Linked DNA regions of Homo sapiens. The protein of the gene in region 1 purifies or fractionates together with the protein of each later gene. This does not show direct contact. Each region holds a gene or a part of one and is shown in the gene's direction. Other genes may lie near its edges.

What was found.
Region 2: the proteins of RND1 (region 1) and RASAL2 purify together in Homo sapiens (affinity purification with mass spectrometry, with the first as the bait; one large-scale study listed by BioGRID). This does not show direct contact.
Region 3: the proteins of RND1 (region 1) and SLC7A11 purify together in Homo sapiens (affinity purification with mass spectrometry, with the first as the bait; one large-scale study listed by BioGRID). This does not show direct contact.
Region 4: the proteins of RND1 (region 1) and DHCR7 purify together in Homo sapiens (affinity purification with mass spectrometry, with the first as the bait; one large-scale study listed by BioGRID). This does not show direct contact.
Region 5: the proteins of RND1 (region 1) and KIDINS220 purify together in Homo sapiens (affinity purification with mass spectrometry, with the first as the bait; one large-scale study listed by BioGRID). This does not show direct contact.
Region 6: the proteins of RND1 (region 1) and CD44 purify together in Homo sapiens (affinity purification with mass spectrometry, with the first as the bait; one large-scale study listed by BioGRID). This does not show direct contact.
Region 7: the proteins of RND1 (region 1) and PLEKHG5 purify together in Homo sapiens (affinity purification with western blotting, with the first as the bait; 2 studies listed by BioGRID). This does not show direct contact.

What each region holds. Positions count from the first base shown.
Region 1 is NC_000012.12:48,856,645-48,859,757, reverse strand, and holds the end of RND1 (rho-related GTP-binding protein Rho6 precursor), read left to right. Parts: intron 1-1,516; coding exon 1,517-1,762; 3' UTR 1,763-2,613; downstream 2,614-3,113. UniProt on the Homo sapiens protein: Lacks intrinsic GTPase activity. Has a low affinity for GDP, and constitutively binds GTP. Controls rearrangements of the actin cytoskeleton. Induces the Rac-dependent neuritic process formation in part by disruption of the cortical actin filaments.
Region 2 is NC_000001.11:178,454,104-178,457,603, forward strand, and holds part of RASAL2 (ras GTPase-activating protein nGAP), read left to right. Parts: intron 1-343; coding exon 344-545; intron 546-2,596; coding exon of another isoform or gene 2,597-2,617; coding exon 2,618-2,796; intron 2,797-3,500. UniProt on the Homo sapiens protein: Inhibitory regulator of the Ras-cyclic AMP pathway.
Region 3 is NC_000004.12:138,166,474-138,169,349, reverse strand, and holds part of SLC7A11 (cystine/glutamate transporter), read left to right. Parts: 3' UTR 1-2,876. UniProt on the Homo sapiens protein: Heterodimer with SLC3A2, that functions as an antiporter by mediating the exchange of extracellular anionic L-cystine and intracellular L-glutamate across the cellular plasma membrane.
Region 4 is NC_000011.10:71,445,594-71,449,652, reverse strand, and holds the start of DHCR7 (7-dehydrocholesterol reductase), read left to right. Parts: upstream 1-1,259; 5' UTR 1,260-1,363; exon of another isoform or gene 1,364-1,376; intron 1,377-1,918; 5' UTR 1,919-2,043; intron 2,044-4,059. UniProt on the Homo sapiens protein: Oxidoreductase that catalyzes the last step of the cholesterol synthesis pathway, which transforms cholesta-5,7-dien-3beta-ol (7-dehydrocholesterol,7-DHC) into cholesterol by reducing the C7-C8 double bond of its sterol core.
Region 5 is NC_000002.12:8,831,114-8,834,613, reverse strand, and holds part of KIDINS220 (kinase D-interacting substrate of 220 kDa), read left to right. Parts: intron 1-3,500. UniProt on the Homo sapiens protein: Promotes a prolonged MAP-kinase signaling by neurotrophins through activation of a Rap1-dependent mechanism. Provides a docking site for the CRKL-C3G complex, resulting in Rap1-dependent sustained ERK activation.
Region 6 is NC_000011.10:35,208,671-35,212,170, forward strand, and holds part of CD44 (CD44 antigen isoform 1 precursor), read left to right. Parts: intron 1-947; exon of another isoform or gene 948-1,294; coding exon 1,295-1,384; exon of another isoform or gene 1,385-2,104; intron 2,105-2,575; coding exon 2,576-2,779; intron 2,780-3,500. UniProt on the Homo sapiens protein: Cell-surface receptor that plays a role in cell-cell interactions, cell adhesion and migration, helping them to sense and respond to changes in the tissue microenvironment.
Region 7 is NC_000001.11:6,478,168-6,481,667, reverse strand, and holds part of PLEKHG5 (pleckstrin homology domain-containing family G member 5), read left to right. Parts: intron 1-3,500. UniProt on the Homo sapiens protein: Functions as a guanine exchange factor (GEF) for RAB26 and thus regulates autophagy of synaptic vesicles in axon terminal of motoneurons. Involved in the control of neuronal cell differentiation.

The sequences.
Region 1 (3,113 bases):
GGCCCCACGCCTAGCTAATCTTTTAACATTTTTTGTAGAGACAAGGTCTCAGTATGTTTCCGGGGTTGTTCTTGAACTCCTGACATCAAGTGATTCTCCTACCTTGGCCTCCCAAAGTGCTGGGATTACAGTTGTGAGTCACCACACCTGGCCTGGAATCTGCATTTTTTATAAGACCCCTGGATAATTTCTTATGTGCATGAGAGCATAGGGTTGGGGGACTGAGTTTCGCTCTTGTCACCCAGGCTGGAGTGCAGTGGTGCGATCTCAGCTCACTGCAACCTCTGCCTCCCGGGTTCAAGAGATTCTCCTGCCTCAGCCTCCTGCGTAGCTGGGATTACAGGTGCCTGCCAACACGCCCAGCTAATTTTTGTTATTTTTAGTAGAGATGGGGTTTCACCATGTTGGCCAGGCTGGTCTTGAACTCCTGACCTCAGGTGATCCACCTGCCTTGGCCTCCACTGCACCTGACCTGGGGAGCTCTTAAGAATACTAATACCGGCCAGGCGCGGTGGCTCACGCCTGTAATCCCAGCACTTTGGGAGGCTGAGGCGGGCAGATCACAAGGTCAGGAGATCAAGACCATCCTGGCTAACATGGTGAAACACCATCTCTACTAAAAATACAAAAAATTAGCCAGGCGTGTTGGCGGGTGCCTGTAGTCCCAGCTACTCGGGAGGCTGAGGCAGGAGAATGGTGTGAACCCGGGAGGCAGAGCTTGCAGTGAGCCGAGATCGCGCCACTGCACTCCAGCCTGGGCAACAGAGCGAGACTGTTTCAAAAAAAAAAAAAAAAGAAAAGAAAGAAAAAGAAGAATACTAATGCCTTGGCTCTATACCCAGAATTTTTTTTTCCTTTTCCTTTTTTTTTTTTTTTTTTTTCCAGAGACAGGGTCTTACTCTGTCACCCAGAATGAAGTGCAGTGGTGTGATCCTAGCTCACTACAGTGCAGAACTCCTGGGCTCAAGGGATCCTCTCTAGTATTTGAGACTATAGTTGTGTGCCCACTTCCAGTGAATTTTTAAACATTTTTTAAAAGTGTTTATTATTATTTTATTATCTTTATTTTTGAGATTTATTTTTGTAATTCCAAAGCGCTGGGATTATGGGTGTAAGCCACCGCGCCCGGCCACCTAGGCTGGTCTTGAACTCCTGGCCTCCTCAAGTGATCCTCCCATCACAGCCTCCTGAGTAGCTGGGATTAGAGGCACTAGCCACTGCCCCAGCTATCCCCAGAAATTCTAATTTAGTTTGGCATCAATATAGTTTTAAGAGTATTCCAGATGATTTATAATGTGCAGTCAGGCATCGTCTTAAGAAAAAGAGGCATCATCAGACAGGGTGTATGCCAAAAAAAAAAAAAAAAAAGAAAAGATAATCGAATAATCTGCAGAGGGTGGTGTTTGGAGACTGGCAGCTGGGTCCCCTCTGGAGTGGCCCTGGGGAGTGACGCACAGAGGCAGCGTCCCAGAGCCATTTTGGCCCACTGCATTAATGCCCTCACCCCCTCCTGCAGGGTTGTGCAATAGCAAAGCAGCTGGGTGCAGAAATCTACCTGGAAGGCTCAGCTTTCACCTCAGAAAAGAGCATCCACAGCATCTTTCGGACGGCATCCATGCTGTGTCTGAACAAGCCTAGCCCACTGCCCCAGAAGAGCCCTGTCCGAAGCCTCTCCAAACGACTGCTCCACCTCCCCAGTCGCTCTGAACTCATCTCTTCTACCTTCAAGAAGGAAAAGGCCAAAAGCTGTTCCATTATGTGAAGTGGAAATTGGAGGGGGGAGACAACCCCCTACTTCCTCCCTTGGGGTGCAGAGGCACGGGGAGAGGGAGGATGAGACAATTTAGGACACTGGACATGAGTTTTTCAGATGGCCACGGTGAGGGCTTGGAAGGAGACAGGAATGGGGCGAGGAAGGAGCCAGGCCCGGCATGAGGACCTGACGCTGAGAGAGAACCATCATACCCCAAGCCAGGCACTAGATTTTGGAGGGGGCGACTACCCCAGTGCCCCCCCCGCTCCAGAGGAAGGAAAGCTGTGGGGGACGGGGGGCATGCTGGCCTCATGGGCTTGGGGGCCTACAGCAGCCTCACCTTCAGCTTCATGCCTCTTCCACACAGCGTTTCCATGCAGGTCAGGGGATGGGAGGGGTCCCTGAGCCCTTCCCTTCCCCTCTAAGGAGGCAGCAACGGAGAGTGGGGAAGTGGAGCGGCAGCTCCCTTGGGGGCTTAGCCCAGGTGCTTCGTAACTGCAATCGGAAGTGCAGGAGCTGGTCAGAGCCAATGAGAAGGAAACCTCATCTTTGCATAGCCCATGCCTCATGGAGAGGTGACATCATACATTCACATGCTTCTCACCTAAGTCCCCAGGGTCCAAGGGAGAAGCCCCAGACCCCCTTCTCTTGCAGAGTGTGGGGGTGGTGGTGCTGCAGGGGCAGGGCTGGGTGGGGGTCACCAGACTTTTTCTGCCCTTAGGGTAGTACAGCTGGCATTTGTTTTATAGACTCTTGTCTTTGGAATTGGGGGGAGGGGGGGAGTGTTTCAATCTGTTATATGTTCTGTGTTTAATGAAGAAAACCTATTTATTAATGAAAAATATAATACATATAAAGAATTTGGCTCCGTATTTTTTTCTGTTTTCTTTAGTTGTTACAATTGGTATTTTTTTTTTTTGGTCTTTTTTTTTTTTCCTTTTTGTGGAGAACAGGGTCTCGCTATATTGCTCAGGCAGGTCTCAAACTCCTGGGCTCAAGCTATCCTCACATCTCTGCCTCCCTAAGAGCTGGGATTACAGGCATGAGCCACCGTGCTTGAGCCCTTTGGTTGATGATAATGAGAGAAAAGCTGTCCTGGGACCCTTTCTGTGGGTTGCAGAGGGGCTGCCTCCACCATTCCCCAGCTCCTCCAAGAAGGAGCTTCTCTCTTCCCCCATCCCCCTGCCCTAGCCCCACCCAAGACCTACTAAACCAAGGAAGGGCTCCTTAGCCCGAGAGCAGGGGTGCAGGGGTTCTCAACCCTGGAACTATTGACATTTTGGACTGGATAATGCTTTGTTGTGAGGGACTGTCCTATGCAGCCCAAGATGTTTAGCAGTGTCCCTGATCTGGTGGATGC
Region 2 (3,500 bases), on another chromosome or scaffold:
TTTGTAGAAGCTAGCAGTATTGAAGGTTTGTACTGGTGAGCTTTTGGTAGGTAAGTGAGGGCTATATTGCAGAGAAATTTAAATCCCAGAACTAAAAAAAAAAAAAAAAAAAGGAGTTTTGGCTTTACCCTTTAGAGAGAATAGAAAGCTATTCTCAAAGCATTAGAATATTAAAGTGATATTAAGAAAGTATGTTATAACATTTATCACTTATAGATAATAAACAAAATTAGTCATTCCCTCCACAAAATAAAAAAAAGTAATAGTTCTGTGTAATGTCAAATCAAAATGATCATATCTCTCTTGAATATGTTCTTTCTCATTTTCTCATCCTCTACTTCAGGTTTGGTAACAAAGAGGAATACATGGCATTCATGAATGATTTTTTAGAACATGAATGGGGTGGAATGAAGCGCTTTCTTTTGGAGATCTCTAATCCAGACACCATCTCAAACACCCCAGGCTTTGATGGTTACATTGATCTGGGCCGAGAGCTTTCAGTTTTGCATTCCTTACTGTGGGAAGTAGTTTCCCAACTTGATAAGGTAAAGTAGGTTGGTGGAAGATAGAGAACTTTAATGTACCTGAATTCTGGAAAGTAACTATAGAGTGATAGCACTCACTCTTTCTGCTAATTGAAAGCAACTGTTTACCCTAGAAATCTGAGAGTAAATGGTCATCATTTCTGAGTAAAATATGAGATCGACAACCATGAAACTCTAGAAAACCATGACATTATTAATATATGTTTTTAATAATTATCTGAATTAATGGAGTATATTTCTCTAAATTTATATATACAGAGTGCATATCTGAAAACTTGACTAGAAACTAATATATTGGTATATACAGCCTTATGCATGTCTAATAGGATAAGATGAAACCTCATATAGTAATTTCTAATAAAAGTATAGATTTAGCTAAGAAAATACTAGGTTTATCATGTTTTAAGTAACTACCCATGAAACAAATTTTTTTACTATACAAGTCATAGAGTTTCATATAATTATTAGTGCTAACAGTCATTGTTTTCTTTCTTTACAGATGTGAATTAAGAATACAGAAAGCAATTATTTTTAATCGTTTGCTAAGAATTTTATTATATACCGTATTAATAAGTAAATATACACCATGCCAATCATTTTCTTCCTTCTGGAATTTAACAAAAAGGAATAGATTTGGTAGTAAAAAATAGTCTAAAAGACGTTGGCTAGGCTTATTACAATAATTATTTATTGATGTTTTTGTTTGCTACAGGCACTTTATAAATATGTGTGGTGGTATGTTAGAATAACTTCAAAAGACAGTCATTTTTCTATGATAATGATCTACTTATTTTCCTCTATTTTCCTATCAATAAAAATGCTATATCAGTAAAATTTGAAGGGGAATAAAACCTATTAACAAAGACCACTTTGCTGAGGAAACATATGTGGTAATGTGTCCTCCAGTGCTTAAAATATTTGTAAAACAATAAACTGTTCCTTATTCTCGAGGACCTTTTCTTCACTTTTAGAAATGCTAGCTAGATTTTTAAGTTGCAGCTATGCCAAAGATAAACCCTTTTCATGTGAATCGTAGCCCAACATTATTGAGCAAGTAAAGGCCTTGGTGGCATCTATCCCTGTTTGAGTAGGGTAGAAGAGTCTGTTGATTGTTGAGAAGGCAAAGACCCAAAGGCAGCTATGCCAAACTGACTGACAGTTGAAGGGGACCCCTAAGACCCCATGAGAATAAGAATTCCCTAAATAAAAAAATGATTGAAATGGATAAAGCAAGTATTAAAGAGTTCGTCTTTGTTGAATAACTGCATCTCAGTGGAATGCAGATTCAGTTTTCCTGTGAAATGGGCCTGGTTTATTCAGGATCAAAGTCTTTTTAACGGGCTTTGCTATGTAAACACACTTTCTCCTTTTTAATCTGTGTTTGGTCCTGGGAACCAGGAATACATCTAGACATATCTCATAGAGGAAGTTTACCTGATTTTGCTGTTAAATTAACAATAAAAATTGTCTTACTGATGGAAACTCAGTTGGCAGTGGGTCAGGGTTCCCAAGATTGACTGGGATAGTGGATGGCAGTATCATCTGTGTGCCCTGCAGTACTCTGGATTCCTGAATGAGCACCTTCTTATATGTTGGCATGCATTTCTTTTCTCACATGATCCCTTTTCTTTGAAAGTTTATCATACTAGTTGATCCTCTGATCTTGAAGTTCTTTTGGTTAGAAGGAATTTGGTTCTGCCTCCACCCTCCCCCACCTTGATCTACTAGCCTCCCAAAGATTTAGTTTGCTTCGCATGCCTATTTTAGTTGGAATGGCATTAGTTTGGTAGTTTTGAGCATGTCTTTTAATTTTTACTTGCATAATCCTGATTTCGATTTCCTTTCTTTCCTCGATGTCTGCCGCACCTTGTTTCGCCTCCTCCATTCATCTCGACGCCATGGTTCTGCTGCTCCATAACAATGCATTATGAACCTGCCACTCCCATATGCAAACACTTACCCTTCCCTCCAACCTACACCCCTCCATCAATGGCCATCGTTGTGCCAAAAACAATCTGTGGTGGATGTCGCAATGCTTATTATCCAATTAGGGTGAAAATTCCTTCCTACAGGCGACCGTGGCAAAATTGGGGCCTCTCCCTCGTGTTCTTGCTGATATTACCAAGTCATTGACTAATCCTACGCCAATACAACAGCAACTGAGACGCTTCACTGAACATAACTCCAGTCCAAATGTCAGTGGAAGCCTCTCCTCTGGGCTGCAGAAAATATTTGAAGACCCCACTGACAGGTATGAAAGAGAGAATTTGACCACTATCTCGGAGAAACATAATGTTTAGATTTAGCAGAAGTATATTCAACCTATTTGTTGAATTTACAAGTTTAAAATCATGAGCAACTGAAGACTCATCTGACCTGAGAGCAGTCCAATTATTTGTCATAATAATGCACAAGATCTGGGATGACTTATTTTCTAGAATGGTAGTATAGAGAGTTACAATATATTCCACAAGCATATTTTTAAAATTTCTGTCTTGCTTAGTGGAAGACTAAAGGCTTTATGAAATTCATGTTTCTGTACGTTATAGCATTCAAAATCTTGGAGAACCTCGGTTAAAACCATTTTATAGCTGGCTATGTCAACTGGACAGGTAGATACAATGTCGATGCTTAGACTGTTTTAGGGATTGGCAAGACTTGTGCCTTTTGCAGGGACCTTTCAGTTGTGTGCTTAGAACTTCTTCTCTTGAAGGTTTAGACAAGTAAGTATGAATTGGAATATTTGGGGAAGGTTTAAAACCTAACTAGGAAATTATTGGAATCCTGGTTAAAACTGAAGACAGTGATGGGTTGGTATCTACAGTGTTATTCTGTACCTTTGGGGAAAAAGTAAAAATGCTGGATTTTATTCTAAGCATTGTAATAATTCCCTAATTAGATAAAATCTGAGTTTCCAAAGAAATGTACGTATCCACATAAGAACCTTCGGAGGAG
Region 3 (2,876 bases), on another chromosome or scaffold:
TGAGAAGACACAGTTCCTTTAATCAGGAAATTAATATCCATAATTTTCACTCAAAATTGCAGTATGTAAAGCAGATTCTCAAAAACTCTCCTGAACACTTATTTATATATATGTTTTTATATAAGTAAAATTTTTCTCATATTTTTATACGATATGCACACACACACATACATGCACATACTACTTACTACATGTTCTGTACTTGTACTTTGTACCATGCATATTCAAATGTTTATATACATAAGTTTATTATAACATAAACAGTAAAAGTAATGAATACTGTTTAAAATAACTAATATAGTATTTTTTAATTTTTGTGGGGATGGATTCTCAAATACTTGTGATTTTAAAAGATTCTAAAGCTAAAACACAACTTGATTTTAAAAAGAATGATTCTCCTTACACAATTATAAATATTTGCAGTAAATATTTTCCTTATAATACTGTTTTGACCCCATTTAAAAAGTATTAGATTATATTCCTTTGATCCAATGAAAACTGAACCTTATAAATGGTTAGCTGAAAGTAGACCTTATTCTTGTCCTTCTTTAGAAGAGTAAAGATTTGTCCTAGGGAAGATGGCTGACTTCGGTTCCCAACATGCGTATGCATTTAGACTGTAGCTCCTCAGCCCTGTGGACACAAAATTTGGACAGCTTATTAGGTTACGTTAGCAATGCATGACGGTTTCTCCAACACTAAGATATTCACGTTGAAACAGATTTCCTGTTCGTCTTATGTGTCTGGTAAAATTGTTTCCCCAATTACAATTTGACATATCAATAGAGGGTTAACAAGAGTATAATTACATAACAGAATTCCTCATGAACTGTAATCAGTCTACAGGAAAATCATTATTTTATCTTGATTTGCAGATGAATATACTGCTAAGAAAGGGAGCAACTCTGACCTTTGTTAAAGTTGATCTTTTGTAATTGAGGTATAAGGTATGAAAAGATAAAAAACCGAAGGCCAGAGAATCAGGAAATGAAAGATAGTATGGACTGAAGGTAACAATATTTTAATGTTATGCAATATAGTCAGAGAAATATTAAAAATTAGTTGTTTGCTGTGCATAGGTGGATCTCGCAGGAAGCTAATGAAACCTAAGCTTCAGTGCCTCTCACTTAGACATGTTCCATTCGAGGTCCTGAACCTAACTTTGTATTAGGAATTCTGTACTAATTTTGTTGAAGAAGACCAGCAAAGTTGTGTACACTTCTACCCCCACAAAATCTGCATTGTCCATGTGAGTAAAGTAAAATAATTCCTGTTATTTTTTTCTGTTAGAAATAAGTATGGAGGATATGTTTTTAAAAATTTATGAGTTAATTGAAATATCCATATATAACAAGTGACTTTCTCACAATATATATGATGTGATATATAGGGAGATAGTTTCACTTTCATCATATTTTATACGTTGATTCTGAACTATAGAAAAATAATAAATGGGATTTTAATTATAGCTCTTAGTTGGGAAAGAAATATAGAGAGATGTGGGATTTGAATGCCCATGAAAGACATTTTATTTTACTTGAATATATTCTTGCTTCACTTTACCCTCCATAATATGTTGTACATTAGTGCTGATCAAGTTTACAGAGTTACATTTTGCTTTCCTAACCATTCAGTCAGGAATTAAAATATGGCATTGTATAACAACTGGGAAGAAGCTCATAGTGGATATAAATTAGAGTAGATAATGGGTCACCTTGATAGCCTCTGTTTACATTACTTGTATATGGGCAAAATAATTATTACCTATACGTGTATTTAAGCTTAATTTTCATATAAACAGTATTTTTAATCTATGTTAAAATAGATAATATCTAAAAGTGTGATCTCTAGGTAGTCCTTAGTTTATTAGTACTGTACTTCAAAAAGATTTTTAAATAGGTCCGGCACGGTGGCTCATGCCTGTAATCCCAGCACTTTGGGAGGCTGAGGCGGGCGAATCACCTGAGGTCAGGAGTTCGAGATCAGCCTGGCCAACATGGTGAAACCCTGTCTCAACTAAAAATATAAAAATTAGCCGGGCGTGGTGGCAGGCGCCTGTAATCCCAGCTACTCGGGAGGCTGAGGCAGGAGAATCACTTGAACCCAAGGGGCAGAAGCTGCAGTTAGCCAAGATCGCATCATTGCACTCCAGCCTAGGGGACAAGAGCGCGAGACTTCATCTCAAAAAAAAAAAAAAAAAAAAAAAAAGATTTTTAAATAATAGCTAAAGGTATGCTCTCTAGGTCATCCTTAGTTTATTAGTACTGTACTTAAAAATTATTTTTTAATAGTCAATTTTGGGAGATAATTATTTCTTTCCTTATATTTTCCAATTAGTTGGTGTCTAAAAATAAATGTTTTGTCTAATTTTAGATCAGGTATACATTCACAAAAGCATAAATCATAGTCTCACAGGAAATTCACCAATTTTCCATATGTCGTGAGATAACTGTCCTTTCTACAACCTCATAACAATGAATTTATATAATTACCTAGATTTTCTTAGTGTGAATCTACCCATTAGTTTTATTTTCTTGGTAGTTATTTTTTTCCCTCCTCTCTGTTACTATTGGCCTTAAAATACACAGAGGACGGTTACAGTGTCCTAATAGCTGTTACATGTGTGTGTTTCAGCGTACTTGAATCAAGTGTACATTTATAGTACCAATAACCGCCTTTACAGCTTTACAGTTAACAATTCTCTCACAAAACTGTAGAGCATTAGGCATCTGAGAGCCATAGAGGGCCAACTTTGTTCCAGAGTGAACATGCTTTTTTTCCTCAACATATACACTACTGATTTTTTTTAAAAGTATGACTTTCAAGTGAATTAATGTATTGGTTAGGAGAACTGCTTGCTAAGTCCTTATTACCTC
Region 4 (4,059 bases), on another chromosome or scaffold:
GAGCTGTGATCGTGCCACTACACTCCAGCCTGTGTGACAGAGACCCCCGTCTTAACAAAGCAAAACAAAACAACAATAACAAAAGGGCTGTAAAGGGCATTATTGGGACAACCGCGGGAAACTGGAGATGGAAAATAGATAACAGCATTGAACTGATGTGGTCATTGTATTTTGGTAATATAGGAGGTTCTTGTTCTTAAGGAGTTGGATACCGAAGTATTTGGGAGGGGGGTATCACGGTATCTGCAGCTAATGGTGGGGGCTGAGTGGGGAGGAAAAAAGAAAAATACACATATATAAACACAGAGGGAGAGAAATGAAACGTGGCCAGCTGCTCACCCCTGCTGAACCTAGGAATCTGCGTGCTCACTTTACGTTCAACTTGTTTGTATGCTGAACATTTTTCAAAACAAAAAGGTGCAGGGAAAAAAGAAAACATGATGTCTCTCTGAGGGCCACAGAGACGTGGCAACCAGATCGCTCTGACAGTAAGGCCTGTTACCCGAGCTGTTGGGTGTGGGGTCAGCAGACACCTTCAGCTGCCCCCTCCTCCAGGGCTGCCTCGCCCCAGGTCATGCCCTCGCAACGTGGCCCGTGCGTCCGGCTCGCACTGTGGCTCAGCTTCTCCCTTTGCCCAGTCCTGCTGCTCCCTCCCCTCCCGTCCTCGCACAGGTGTGCCCCCCTAATAAGCAGGCCACCCAGACTCCATCTCGGGTCACTTTGGCGGTCTCCCAGCGGCGAGCCTTCCCTGACACCCATGTGTTTACCTGATCGTTTATGGAGGATCCTCTTCGCCCCGGGACGTGAGCCCTAGGACCAAGAACTGTGTCTGTTTTGCTCCTTGCGGTGCACCGGCGCCTGGACATACGCTCCATCAATGTGCGTCGCGAGCCGCTGAAGCCCCATTTGCCGAGGGGGAAACTGAGGCACGATGATCCAGGTGATGAGCCTGGCGCGTTCTCCGCGCGGCCCACGTGGCCACTCCGCCACGCCCCACCCCCAGCTGGTCAGCTGGGATCCCGAAGAAGCGCCAGAGGCTGCGCCCACCCACTAGGGCCCGGGCGGGCCGGTGGGGCGGCAGGGCGGGGCCTGGGCCGTCAATCTCGAGTCCGGCCGCTGCCGAATGGCGGGCGCGGTGGGCCCGGAGTCAGCTCAGGCTCCTCGACCAATCACGGGGCGCGGAGCCGCCGGGCGTGCAGGGTCCGCCTCCGATTGGCAGGCAATCGCTGACATCATCCGGGGGCGGGCGCCCCTGCCCTGCGGGTGACTCCGACCCCTGGCTAGAGGGTAGGCGGCGTGGAGCAGCGCGCGCAAGCGAGGCCAGGGGAAGGTGGGCGCAGGTGAGGGGCCGAGGTGTGCGCAGGTGAGTGGCCAAGGTGTGCGCAGGTGAGGCCAGGGGAAGGTGTGCGCAGTGGGGGGCGCTTGCCCAGGTGAGCAGGTGCCCACTCACAGGGCGAGGGTGGGGTCAGGGGTAGGGGGCGTGCGCGCAGGTGGGGAGAGGGTCCAGCTCACAGGCGAGGGGCCGCTGGGGCTCCGGGGAGGCGGGGCGGAGGCGTGGATAGTCCCCCTCCCCCACGAGCCGGCGTCTGAGGGATGCTCTGTCCCCGCGCTGTCTGGAGCTTCCCCGGGCGAAGGCTGCCTGGCTCCGGGGTCGGCTCCTGGCCCCATGCCGCGCTCCGCGGCGGCTCTTTCTCCTGCCCCACCTGTTGTTCGCCTCCCTCTTTGTCAGTGCTGAGCCAGGCACAGCAGCTTTGCGATGGGACTGGCTTGTCCGCCGTCCTCCCTGACATGCGGCTGTTGAAGCCCTGAGCACTGGACCTTCTGCCTCTTGCTTGACTCCTACTGTGGGCCTTGAGCTTCTGCCCTCTCCTGAAATGTCAGCTGCCTGCGGTCTTATTCATTTTTGTGTTCCTTGCAGGACTTTAGCCGGTTGAGAAGGATCAAGCAGGCATTTGGAGCACAGGTGTCTAGAAACTTTTAAGGGGCCGGTTCAAGAAGGAAAAGTTCCCTTCTGCTGTGAAACTATTTGGCAAGAGGCTGGAGGTAAGTGTATCTCAGTGCCCTGGATCGTGGGCGCAGGCTATGGCTTCACAGCGTTGAAAGTACAGACAGACTGGTCCACCAGCTCTCGAGTGCCAACGACTGTCTGTGCCTCTTATGAGTAAAATACAACATACCAGGGCACCTCCCCTTTGTCTGTTCCCAGCCGTCTATTGGGAAGGATGTTACTTAGATGTTTATTGCACAACTCAATGCTTGTGGCTAAAGAGCTGACTCCTGGGTGAATGAACTCTGTAATAAGCTAAAAGTACTTCTTTGGTCTTGTTTTAATCCCTTTTGACAACATTCTCCCAGTGGCTTTTTCACACTTTAGTTCTGAGGTTACACATCCCCTGACCCTTTTGCAATTTCCCAGTGTTTTACATAATTGATAATGTTGGTACCAGGCATTGTCCCCTTGTAGCTTATCCATGGCTTGGGGCAAGACGAATGCCACCCCATTCTACTTAGCCTTCCTGTAAGGCAAGTGTGCATGTGGGTGGTCTGGATTAACACCAGTCAGTGTGGGAACTAGGGATCGGAGGGAGTGGGGGCACTGAGCTGGTAAGTTTTGGCTGGGAAGAAACTAAGCTTGTATCTTACCTTGATGAGAGCCTGGGGGAGAGGAACTGTCTAAAGCAAGCCAGCTTGTCCAGGTGGCTGTGATCTTGAGATCAGACTCACTAGCGTGTCAGCTTTTCTCAGAAGTAGTTTTCTTTCATCCACTTTGATTTTACAGATATAAGGAGAGTGACTGGCACTCGCCAGGCTCTGTATTCAGTATTTGGGGCCGGAGAGAGACACGGTCTCTTCCTATCAAGAACTCTTCGTCTTGTTTTGTGCATCATAGGAACTGCATAAACTAACTTGTGTAAATTGAATGAAGTGCGGGTACTGAAGTTCTCACACTGCATAAGGAAAATGTCTTTCATCGTTGAAATTTTTTAAATGTGTGTGAATTTTTATTAAAGTAATTCATGCACACATTTTTTTAAAAATCAGTGTTAAAAGGCTTCAGAAGAAATACTCTCTACCACATCCCACATCCGACAGTCTTGCTTGCCAGCAGCAAACACTTTTCATTCTTTCAGCTACTTTTGTGTTGTTGTTTGTACCTACTTGTTTCTAAGTAATTTCCTTTTAGTACCCCTAACTTTGCAAATTCCCTTCTGTGCATACAATAGTCAATAAATAGTCAGAGTATACATTGTTATGACAAAATTACCATTATTCACTGTTGAGCCAAGTAAGGTCCTATAATAATGGCTTGGTTTCTTTTTTTCCTTCCTTATATGACTTTTTATTTTTCCTGGAGTTAACAGTTGCCTTCCTTTTTTTTTTTTTTTTTTTTTCATTTGGTAAGGTTTCTATGCATCTCTCATTCATTTTTTTCTGGATGCTCTAACCGAGCTGTCACATATATCAATAATTTTCCTACACATTCAGATGCAACAAAATTCATCATTTTCATTTCCTCTCTTTCCTAGCCATTCATCTTGTACCAATGTGGACTGGTTTCTGGTTAGTCCTGCTGCATAGCTGTCCTCTTGGGACTTGCCCCTGCCCTTTTGTGGACATGGCTTCAGCAGCTCTCTTGGGTCTCCAGTTTCCTGGATCCTATGTTGTTGTCCTTGAGTAATAGTTCACATAGGAGTAGAATTCTAGGTTGCAAAAAGTTTTCCTCAAAATTTTGAAGTTTTTCATCATTGTCTTCTAGAATCCAGCTTGCTGTTGAGAAATCTAAGCCTACTGTGATTTTTACTCCTGTTTTTTCTCTAAAAGCTTTCAAGAGCATCTTTTAAAAAATCTCAGATATTTTAAAGCTTCACAGTTATGAACTTGTTCTGGAAGTGGGGATGTCACTGCTTCCCCCAAATTATAACCATGTAGAGCAGCTGTGGGTACCTAGAGACATTCTGTGTTCTCTTCCCCTTTTTTTTGAAGGGTGATTATTGATGGTCCTACATGGGCCACTGTTCTAGGCCCTGGTAGTAGAACAATGAAGAGGACACACAATTC
Region 5 (3,500 bases), on another chromosome or scaffold:
TAGTCTTTATTCTCATTGAGCTACATTTGTTTGGCTAGGGGAAGCAGACCAAAAACAAAGTATGTGGTATGTGGAGTGATGCTAGGTGTTATAAAGAAGACCTTTAAAGTAGGGCTGTGGAAGGGGGATATAGTAGAGGGGGAGAGGGCTGTTTTATACACGTATAAATGGTATACACCATTTATACACGGTGGTCAGAGAAGCTCTGATCAGGTGACGTATGTACAGAAAGTCACTGTGGCCTGAGTAGAGTCAAGGAGAAGGAGCAGCAAGAGTTGAGCTTAGGGAGGTGGAGAAGGGGTGGAATAGATCAAGCAAGGCCTTGGCCCTGGTAGGGATCTGGGATTTTGAGTGAGAGGACAACCGTTGGGATGTTTTGAGCACAGAATGGTTGTAAGAAGACACGATTCAGGAGGACCACTTAGGCCTCTGTGTGGAGGGGGCAAGCGCTGCCACCCAGGCCCAGGAATGTCAGCACCAGGGTAGGCTCTGGGGACTGCACAGGGGTGATTGTTGCTGGAGACTTAAGTGGGAGGAGGAGAAGAGGGGCTGGAGATAGAGAACCATGGGAGGGGCCACATTCAGGAACTTACTGTGTCGTATCTGGAGGATAAGAAATAAGTAAGCCTTGGGCAGCATGGCACTATTGTTGCTTTCATGCACTGTGTCTGTAACCGGAGAAAAGTTATAGGGTGCGTCTATTAACCGATTGGCCTTTTGGTGAAAGCATTTTGAATACATTTAGAGATTTTGCCTATTAAATTGGCAAGTTCTAAAAATGGACTTACTACAACATAAATTTTTTGTTCTGACATTGCTGTTGGCTACATCTGCCATTTTCAAAACGGGTGGCAAGACATTAATTTTTTTGCTAATTGTGCAAAAGAATGTATAGCCTTATATTCCCATTAGAGAGAAAGTGCTGTGGACATTAGATTCAACTGATGTCCATTTATTCAAGAAATATAGTGTCTTGTATGGGCCAGCTATTAAGCTAAGTGTTGGGTATTTGGTATAGAACGAAAGAAAATAATTCATTCCTTTTAAAAGCTTATATCCTAGTGGGAGAGACAGCTATTAATCAGGTAAATATGTCCCATTCCAGCAGGTGTAGCTAAAAAAAAAAAAAAAAAAGACAAATTTAAAAAACATAAATATGTAAATTACAAGTTTAGTAAAGTGTTATGAAGGAATAAAAAAGATTCCATAATAGAGAACAATCCAGGTTATGAGAATCAACCAAGAAAGGGTGGTTAAGAAATGATCATATTCTGTTATTATGTAAAACAGCTAATATTTATTGGCTTCATATGGGTTAGGTATTATTTTAATCCCATTGCATGTAATTGTGCAGTTATTTGAAGATGGGGAAACTCAGACACTGAGGTGAAGAAACTACCCCAGGGGACAGGGAGTGATAAAGAGAGGCTGGTTAATAAGTACAGACATACAGTTAGGTAGAAGGAGTAAGCTGTAGTGTTCAGCAGCATGGTACTATGCTTAACAGTTTATTGTGTATTTTATTTTTTATGGTATATTTTAAAGTAGCTAGAAGATAAGATTTGAGATGTTCCCAGCACCAAGAAATGAGAAAAGTTTGAGGTGATGGATATCCTAAATACTCTGATTTGATCATCACACATCCTATGCATGTAATCCAAATATTACACATACCCCATAAACATGTACAATTATTATGTATTAGTTAAAAAAATTAAGGAAAAAAAAAAGAAACTAGCCTGGGATGATATAATGGTCAGTAGTAAAGTCAGGAGTCAAACCAAGGTAGTCTGGCTCTAGGGTCCATACTTTTGACCACTAGACAGCTTCGTTTTAAGCCGAAAGGGCTTTTGGAAGTGAACGTTGAACTGAAATGTGAAAGATGAGAAGCTGTAGTTTTCCTCCTGTGATGAAACATTTTTTTTTCTATTGAAAATGAACGTAGACTTAATACATCAAGTAAAACAATATAGCACAAAGACGCGTGAAGGCAAAGCTAATCATCTCCTCCTTTTAGTCCTACATGGTAAGATAACGAATTTTACAGCCAGGTGTGTGTCCTTCCACACTTTTCTTTTTGTTCATGTGTACACACTGGATAGATACATATATGGGGGTCTTATTTATTTTATCAAGTAGAATTATACTACACACGTGCTCTTAAACATGACAGCGTGTCATTGGTTTTACTATTGTGTGTATCAACAGATGTGGATTTAATGTTCTAATTTTATTTTGTAATTTCTAGGCACTTATATATGTGCTTACAAACATCTTATGACATTTAATAATCAATTATTCAGTGAAATTTATTAAACACTGTCAGTGCCCTCTAGTCAAAGACTGCCAGGAACATACCTCTAGTTGAACAAAGTTGGTCTTATTAACTCCCTGCAATGAAGGAGAATGCCTGTCCTAGGGAACGTTGGGGGTCTCTGTAACAGGTTGTTAGAAAGGACTTAGAAGATTCGAGATGATGTTAGGTGATTCGGGGAAGAGTTCAAGGAAGCAAAGCTTTGCTCAGTCTCGGGTGCTTCAGGAATAAGGAGGAGTGGGAATTCTGCAATTGGATATTTAAAATCTTAACGAAAAGGCAAGAGGTATGGAGTAAGGCTAAAGCTGTAATTGATAAAGAAGCAGCAATGCTTCATATTAGCCACGATAGGAAGATGTTTGGGCATTTTGTGGTTTGGGTGATGTTCATGTTTTTGTCTATGTTCAGATATGATTCCAGAGTAGTCTTATTTTTGTCTTCATATCCTGGTGACAGAGTGACCTTGTTTGATGTTGGCATTCTTTGAAATTGTTGCATTTATGTTAGAACACCAAGTCTGGCTGTGTGTGCCGGGTCAGTTCCCGACAGTCAGGGGCTGCTTTTCTCTCTCACCTCCTGTTGTGTAGGCATTGTGCTAGATATAAAGCAGATCCTGCTGCAAGAACTTCTAGTCTAAGGGAGATGTGGAGAGAGTGAGTAAAATGGAGAGGAGAGTTGAGTGTGATGTGAGCAGTCTACAACTAGATGTATACACAGGTGTGGAGGAGCCCAGGGCCTGGCCCAGCTTGGGGTAAGCAGCCAGTCAATGAAGGCTTCCAGAAGATCTGTTAGAGCCATGTTCTTAAGGATGGGTAGGAGCTGTTCAGGCATATATACGTGGAGAATGGACTTTCTAAGCAGAGGGGGCATTAAGTGCAAAGGTCTGGAAAGAACAAAGTGTGGGGCAGTGAAGGAGCTGCAAGTAGATCAGTCTGGCTGGAGCTGGAGGTGTAGATGTGACTATGTAGAGGGTGGGAGGGATGGGGCTGAGGAGGGGAGAAAGATAAGGCTGGAATGGTAAGATGGGGCCAGATTGTGAAGAATCTGCATGCCCTCATCATAATCAAGAATTGAACTTACTGAGTTTTCACTCTGCTCAGTGGAGAGCAAAGCTTTCCGTAGGAATTGTGTATTTGCATCTTTACAATGGCTTTAAAAGCCTTAGAAGGCGTAAGTTCCTTGAATA
Region 6 (3,500 bases), on another chromosome or scaffold:
CATGTTATTGACAATCAACAAAGGTGGCGGGATCCCTGGAACAACAACAACAACAAAACATTGCTAGTATCTCTTTCTATCACTAAGAAATGTTCAAATTCTAGTAGCCTTAATTTCTACTCTATGTGCAGGGATGTCCTAGAGATCAGCCTAAAGTCGTTCATAATTTCTTTGAGGAATACAAAAGAAATCTAGAATTAAGAAGGTCCCATTTTACTGCTTGCCACACATAATGGGCAGAGTCCTTCATATGAGCCCTTTAGGCAAAGGAAAAAAATCAGCAAGCATGTATTGATGGTCAGCAATGTAAATAGCACAGCGTTAAGCATCAAAGGAGATGCAAATAAGCCTATGAATGGTCCTTGCCAAAGAAGGACTTATATTTCCGTTTTATGTCACTGTTGGCTTTTGTTCTGACATTGGGTTTGGGATTTAGTGACTGTCTTTCTCCTGGTTGTAATATTTATTCGGTGGTGGGCATGGCTTATGGGTGTGCTTTATGAAGTTTTTGCACCTGCAACTCAGGTCAGTACCTTTCTTAAAAGAACACAAAAGAAATAAACTTGAAACAGTCCAAGTGATTTTAGATATGGGCAATGGGTCAACCTCCAGTTGATATATGTCACTGAGGGCCCTGTGTTTGCCCAGGCAAGCGTTTCCTTGGTGCAGTGATGAAAATCCCAATGCACAGGTGAAATTAAGAAATAACTTAATAATGGAGTAAAATGGTAACTTTAATTTAATGACCTTTACAAGGTAGCTAAGTATTTCCTTGTATAAATTTGATCTGTGTTACTTGAGTAGGCTATTCTAGATAGGCTTCTTTTTCTTTTGTGGTTACAACTAGACTACAGGCTATCATAGTGTTCATTTTCCCTGCCGTCACATTTCTTGACACACAGTTAGGTGCTTTTGGTTACTGATAGGAGCATTGGGATTCAAATATTCTTTTTTCCATGTCTCTGTGTTCTCTGGTTTTCTGGAGTGACTGGGAGCAATGCTGCAATTGAGCCTGGACAATCCAGGATAGGCAAAGTTTTGGCTCAGTCTTCACCTTGCCACTTTACCTTTGATGATTATACTGAGAAATAAAGGGTCTTCAGAACCAAATAGGGGCAAAATAGAATTCTTCTGTATATTTCTATCAATCAGAGGAGAATTGTGTGCACAAACCTTGGTCTTCCTATGCACCTATCCATCTGACTCTACTCTAGCTAGATTTTCCTTGCTAGCAGATAACAGGATTTGTACCGTAGCTTCAAATTAACACTGGATTCATTCCTCATTGAAACAGAGCAGAGTAATTCTCAGAGCTTCTCTACATCACATGAAGGCTTGGAAGAAGATAAAGACCATCCAACAACTTCTACTCTGACATCAAGCAGTAAGGATTATAAAACCTAGTTGGCTTCAGCTATTGATAAGAATCAATCAATTATGGGTACTTTTGCAGTGTCTTTGGTGGAGGTGCATCCATTAGCTGCCGTTACACTGTTACTTTTAATCAAAAGGTGCGTCTGGTGGTGGTTCTCTGATTTTTCTGTTTTATATACCTCTTCGTACATTAAGTGCAAACTACATTTCTTCATCTTAAAAGTTGGGTTTCTTTCACTCTAGAGTTAGTGATTTGTTTTAACAATAATGGATTGCTTATATATGATTTATTTTATTTATTTATTTTTGTTAACTTGAGATCTTTCTAACTTTTTTATGTGGGCGTTTAAATTTAGTGCTATAAATTTCCCTCTTACTACTGCCTTAGCTGTGTCCCAGAGATTCTGATATGTTGTATCTTTGTTCTTATTAGTTTCAAAGAACTTCTTGATTTCTGCATTAATTTCATTATTTACCCAGAAGTCATTCAGGAGCAGGTTATTTAATTTCCATGTAATTGTATGGTTTTGAGTGAGTTTCTTAGTCTTGATTTCAAATTTGATTGCGCTGTGGTCCAATAGACTGTTTGCTATGATTTCAGTTCTTTTGCAGTGTGATTTATAATTGGCGTAAATGTCTGATTATATCACTTTACATTCCTCACAATAATATTGTTTTGCCTTTTGTCCTCTGGACCTCCATGGTGCTGATGACTAAAAAGCAGTCCCTTCTGGAAAAGAAAAGAATAATTAAATTAGTAGCCTCAGGCCTTTGAAACCATGCATTTGCTATTTTAATTGCAGGCAGCAAAATTTTATCTTTCAATCCAATGATATGTTTCCTCCACTACATCAAAGATGAATCCAATTGAGAAAGAACTCAAGATTATCTAGTACCTCAGCTGACTTCAAGATCACAGTTGTAGTGACATAGCCTTACCTAATAACCCAAGCAGATGTTGCAACAAATGCCAATTCTGGGTATTAAGATCACCAAAATCTCTTCTGTTGAGTGATGTCCAAGTAGTGTCTATTGCAAAATATTTATTCTGTTCAATAGTATGACAAACTTCACTCTATTTCTCCCTATTTATGGATAACAAGTGGAAAGCTTTTGCAGCAATTGTGTGTTCTGGAGACAAGCACATGGTGGGTGGTGATCTTACAAATACGGGTTCATCACTGATTCCACCTCCACACAGATAGGAATGATGTCACAGGTGGAAGAAGAGACCCAAATCATTCTGAAGGCTCAACTACTTTACTGGAAGGTTATACCTCTCATTACCCACACACGAAGGAAAGCAGGACCTTCATCCCAGTGACCTCAGCTAAGACTGGGTCCTTTGGAGTTACTGCAGTTACTGTTGGAGATTCCAACTCTAATGTCAATCGTTCCTTATCAGGTAATTTGGCATTTATTATCTAGTTTGCTTTCTCTATATAGAGAAACAATATATAGTTTCATATTACAGAGGACATTTTCTGTGTAGTCTGGGATTGGACTAGTTTGTGATATGGAAATATCTTTCATTATTGGTTATCAATTCTAGTGCAAATAAACTTGGGTATATTTTAGATAAAAGAATGCTTCCTTTTGCCAGTGTTTTTTCCATTTGTCTGTGTTTGCATGTGTGTGTGTGTGTGTGTGTGTGTGTGTGTTGTGTGTACAAGTTGGCTGTTATGATGGAATTGCTTTCTTTGTCTTATCTTGTGATATATGAAGTTGAACCACATGAAACTGATATTTTTGCAGGTGAAAGTAGTCGAATTTTAGCAATTCCGTTTAATTCGACTAATATACTCTACTTATTTTGTAAGGTTTTATCCTACAGGTGAATAATTTCTATATACTAGTATCTTTGCTCTGAAATTATTATCTTGTTTTGGTAATAGATTGATCAGTTTTACTTTTGGTGATGGATAAACCTCTTCTAGTTCTGATGCACACTTAAAATGTTCATGATTTAATCTAGTATTAATGAATAGGGACCACTTCTCTTATTGTAATAGTGAAGAGAGGAACGAAGATAATTTATTCAATGAAGTTTGACACGGACCTAGAATAAGTCTTTTTTTTTCTCAAATAAGTAGTCATCTCTGCTTCTGCTTTTCTTTGCTTCTCCA
Region 7 (3,500 bases), on another chromosome or scaffold:
TGGTCTTGATCTCCTGACCTTGTGATCCGCCTGCCTCAGCCTCCCAAAGTGCTGGGGATTACAGGCATGAGCCACCGCGCCTGGCCTTTTTATTTACTTATATATTTATTTATTTATTTATTTATTTATTTATTTATTTATTTTGAGACGGAGTTTTGCCCCAGGCTGGAGTGCGATGGCACAATCTCGGCTCACTGCAACCTCTGCCTCCCGTATTCAAGCGATTCTCCTGCTTCAGCCTCCCGCGTAGCTGGGATTACAGGCATGCGCCACCATGCCCAGCTAATTTTGTATTTTTAGTAGAGACAGGGTTTCTTCCATGTTGGTCAGGCTGGTCTCGAACTCCCAACCTCAGGTGACCCGCCCGCCTCGGCCTCCCAAAGTGCTGGGATTACAGGCATAGCCACTGCTCCTGGCCCCTTTTGGCTTTTATTCAGAGTGAGATGGGAACCCTTGGAGGGTTTTGAGTAGATACAGTGGGACTCCTCTTTGAACAGGGCCCACTCTAGCTGCACATGGACAACATATTGTGGGGGATGGGGGTAGCAGTGAGGCCAGTTTTGAGGCCATTGTTGTCATCTAGCTAAAAGGTGGCTGGGCAGTGGCACGCTTATGAGCTGTGGCTGGGTTGAGGCCACAGATACTAAAGGTGGAGCCAGCGGGATTTTCGGGCTGACCAGATGGGGGCATAACAGAGAATGTCAAGAGTGACCCCAAGCTGATATGGTGGCTCACACCTGTAATCCCAGCACTAATTCCAGCACTTTGGGAGGCTGAGGCGGGCGGATCAGTTGAGCCCAGGAGTTCGAGACCAGGCTGTGCAACATGGCGAAATCCTATCTCTACTAAAAATTAGCTGGGTATGGTGGTACATGCCTGTAGTCCCAGCTACTTGGGACGGTGAGGCAGGAGAATCACTTGAACCCAGGAGGTAGAGGTTGCAGTGAGCCGAGATTGCGGCACTGCACTCCAGATTGGGTGACAGAGTGAGACCCTGTCTCAAAAAAAAAAAGGAAATCCCCCACCTTGCAGCCATCAGAAGAATCAAATAATTGATTTAGGTTAAAATCATCTATGTATGCTAAAGCTCTTAGGACCGCAAGCTCACATCACCATGCCTGGCTAATTTTTTTTTTTTTGGAGACAAAGTCTCGCTCTGTCACTCAGGCTGGAGTGCAGTGGTGTGATCTCGGCTCACTGCAACCTCTGCCCCCGGTTCAAGCAATTCTCCTGCCTCAGCCTCCTGAGTAGCTGGGACTACAGGCGTACGCTGCCACGACTGGCTAATTTTTTTGTATTTTAGTAGAGACGGGGTTTCACCGTGTTGCCCAGGCTGCTATCGAACTCCTGAGCTCAGGCAATCCACCCGCCTCGGCCTCCCAAAGTGCTAGGATTACAGGCATGAGCCACCGTGCCTGGCAATTTTTTATATTTTTAGTAGAGATGGGGTTTTGTCATGTTGGCCAGGCTGGTCTTGAACTCCTGACCTCAACTGATTGAGTGAGATTACTGGGGAACAAGACATCTCAAAGTGCCATGCCACAGATTACTTATTAATTATAGGGGAAAAAGGGACTCTACAAGGTACAGAGGTCCCCAGAGGATCCAGCATTACAGGCAAATAGCAAGAACACACAGCTCTGTGGTGTCCCCGCCTGAACGCTCAGTTTGAAACTTTCTGAGGACCACCAGGGAGATCCACATTGAGGAGCTCTGTGCGAGGCTGCTGGCTCGAAGACTTCCAAAATGTCAAGGTCAGCCAGGCACAGTGGCTCATGCCTATAATCCCAGCTCTTTGGGAGGTCAAGGCGGGCAGATTGCTTGAGCCCAGGAGTTCAAGACTAGCCTGGGCAACATAGTGAGATCTGTCACTACTAAAAATAAAAAAGTTAGTTGGGCGTAGTGGCATGCACCTAGTATTCCCAGCTACTAAGGAGGCTAAGGCAGGAGGATTACTTGAGTCCGGGAGGTTGAGGTTGCAGTGAGCTGATCATGCCATACTACTCCAGCCTGGGCTACAGAGCGAGACCCTGTCTTGAAGAAAAAAAAAAAGTCAATGTAATAAAAGACCACAAAAAACAAGGCTGGGCACGGTGGCTCACGCGTGTAATCCCAGCACTTTGGGAGGCCGAGGTGGGCGGATCACGAGGTCAGGAGATCGAGACCATCCTGGCTAACACGGTGAAACCCCATCTCTACCAAAAATACAAAAAATTAGCCGGGCGTGGTGGCGGGCGCCTGTAGTCCCAGCTACTCAGGAGGCTGAGGCAGGAGAATGGTGTGAACCGAGGAGGCGGAGCTTGCAGTGAGTCGAGATCGCGCCACTGCACTCCAGCCTGGGCGACAGAGCGAGACTCCGTCTCAAAAAAAAAAAAAAAAAAAAAAGGATAAACAGACATAACCAAATGCCACGTGTGAAACTTGATTAGTTCCTATATGAGGAAGTATATCTGTAAGAACGTTATTTAGACACTTGGGAAAATGTCAATATAGACTATATATCAAGGTTCAGTTTCCCAAGTGCGACAATTCTATGGGGTTTTGTAGGAAAACTGTCTTTGTTCTTAGGCAGCAGCATGATTTCTGCCCCAGGGGAGGGGGGTGCCGAGAAGAGAATGGGAGAGAAGCAGATGTGGTAGATATCAACTTGGGGAGTCCAGAGGGCATGTGGATGTCATGTGCTATTCTTATAATTTTTGGTAGGTTTGAAATATTTTAAAACAAGTCTGGGCGCGGTGGCTCACGCCTGTAATCCCAGCACTTTGGGAGGCCGAGGCAGGCGGATCACCTGAGACCAGGAGTTCAATACCAACCTGGCCAACATGGTGAAACTCCGTCTCTACTAAAAATACAAAAATTAGTCGGGCGTGGTGGATTGTGCCTGTAATCTCAGCTACTTGGGAGGCTGAGGCAGGAGAATCACTTGAACCCGGGAGGCGGAGGATGCAGTGAGCTGAGATCGTGCCATTGCACTCCAGCCTGGGCAACAGAGCGAGACCCCTTCTCAGAAAAATTTAAAAAAATAAAAAGAAAAGAAATATTTTAAAACAAAACTTGGGAAAAATAAAGAGAGTGGGAGGAGAGAACTAGGAAGTCGTGAATACTGATACCTGTTTACAGAGTTTAGCTGTGAAGGGAAAGAAAGAAAGTCAGCCGTAGCTGGAGGGTGAGGTGAGGCCTCTGTAAAATGGAGAAATAAGGCTGGGCGTGGCAGCTCATGCCTGTAATGCCAGCATTTTGGGAGACCAAGGTGGGCGGATCACTTGAGGCCAGGAGTTTGAGACCAGCCTGGGCAACATGGTGAAACCCCGTCTCTACAAAAAATACAAACACTCGCCTATGGTGGTGTGTGCTTCTAGTCCAAGCTACTCGGGAGGCTGAGGCTCGAGGATCACGTGAGTCTGGGAGGTCAAGGCTGCAGTGAGCCATGATTGTGCCACTGCACTCCCTGTCTCAAAGAAAGAAAGAAAAAAAAAGATGGAGAAGCCGGGCGCGGTGGC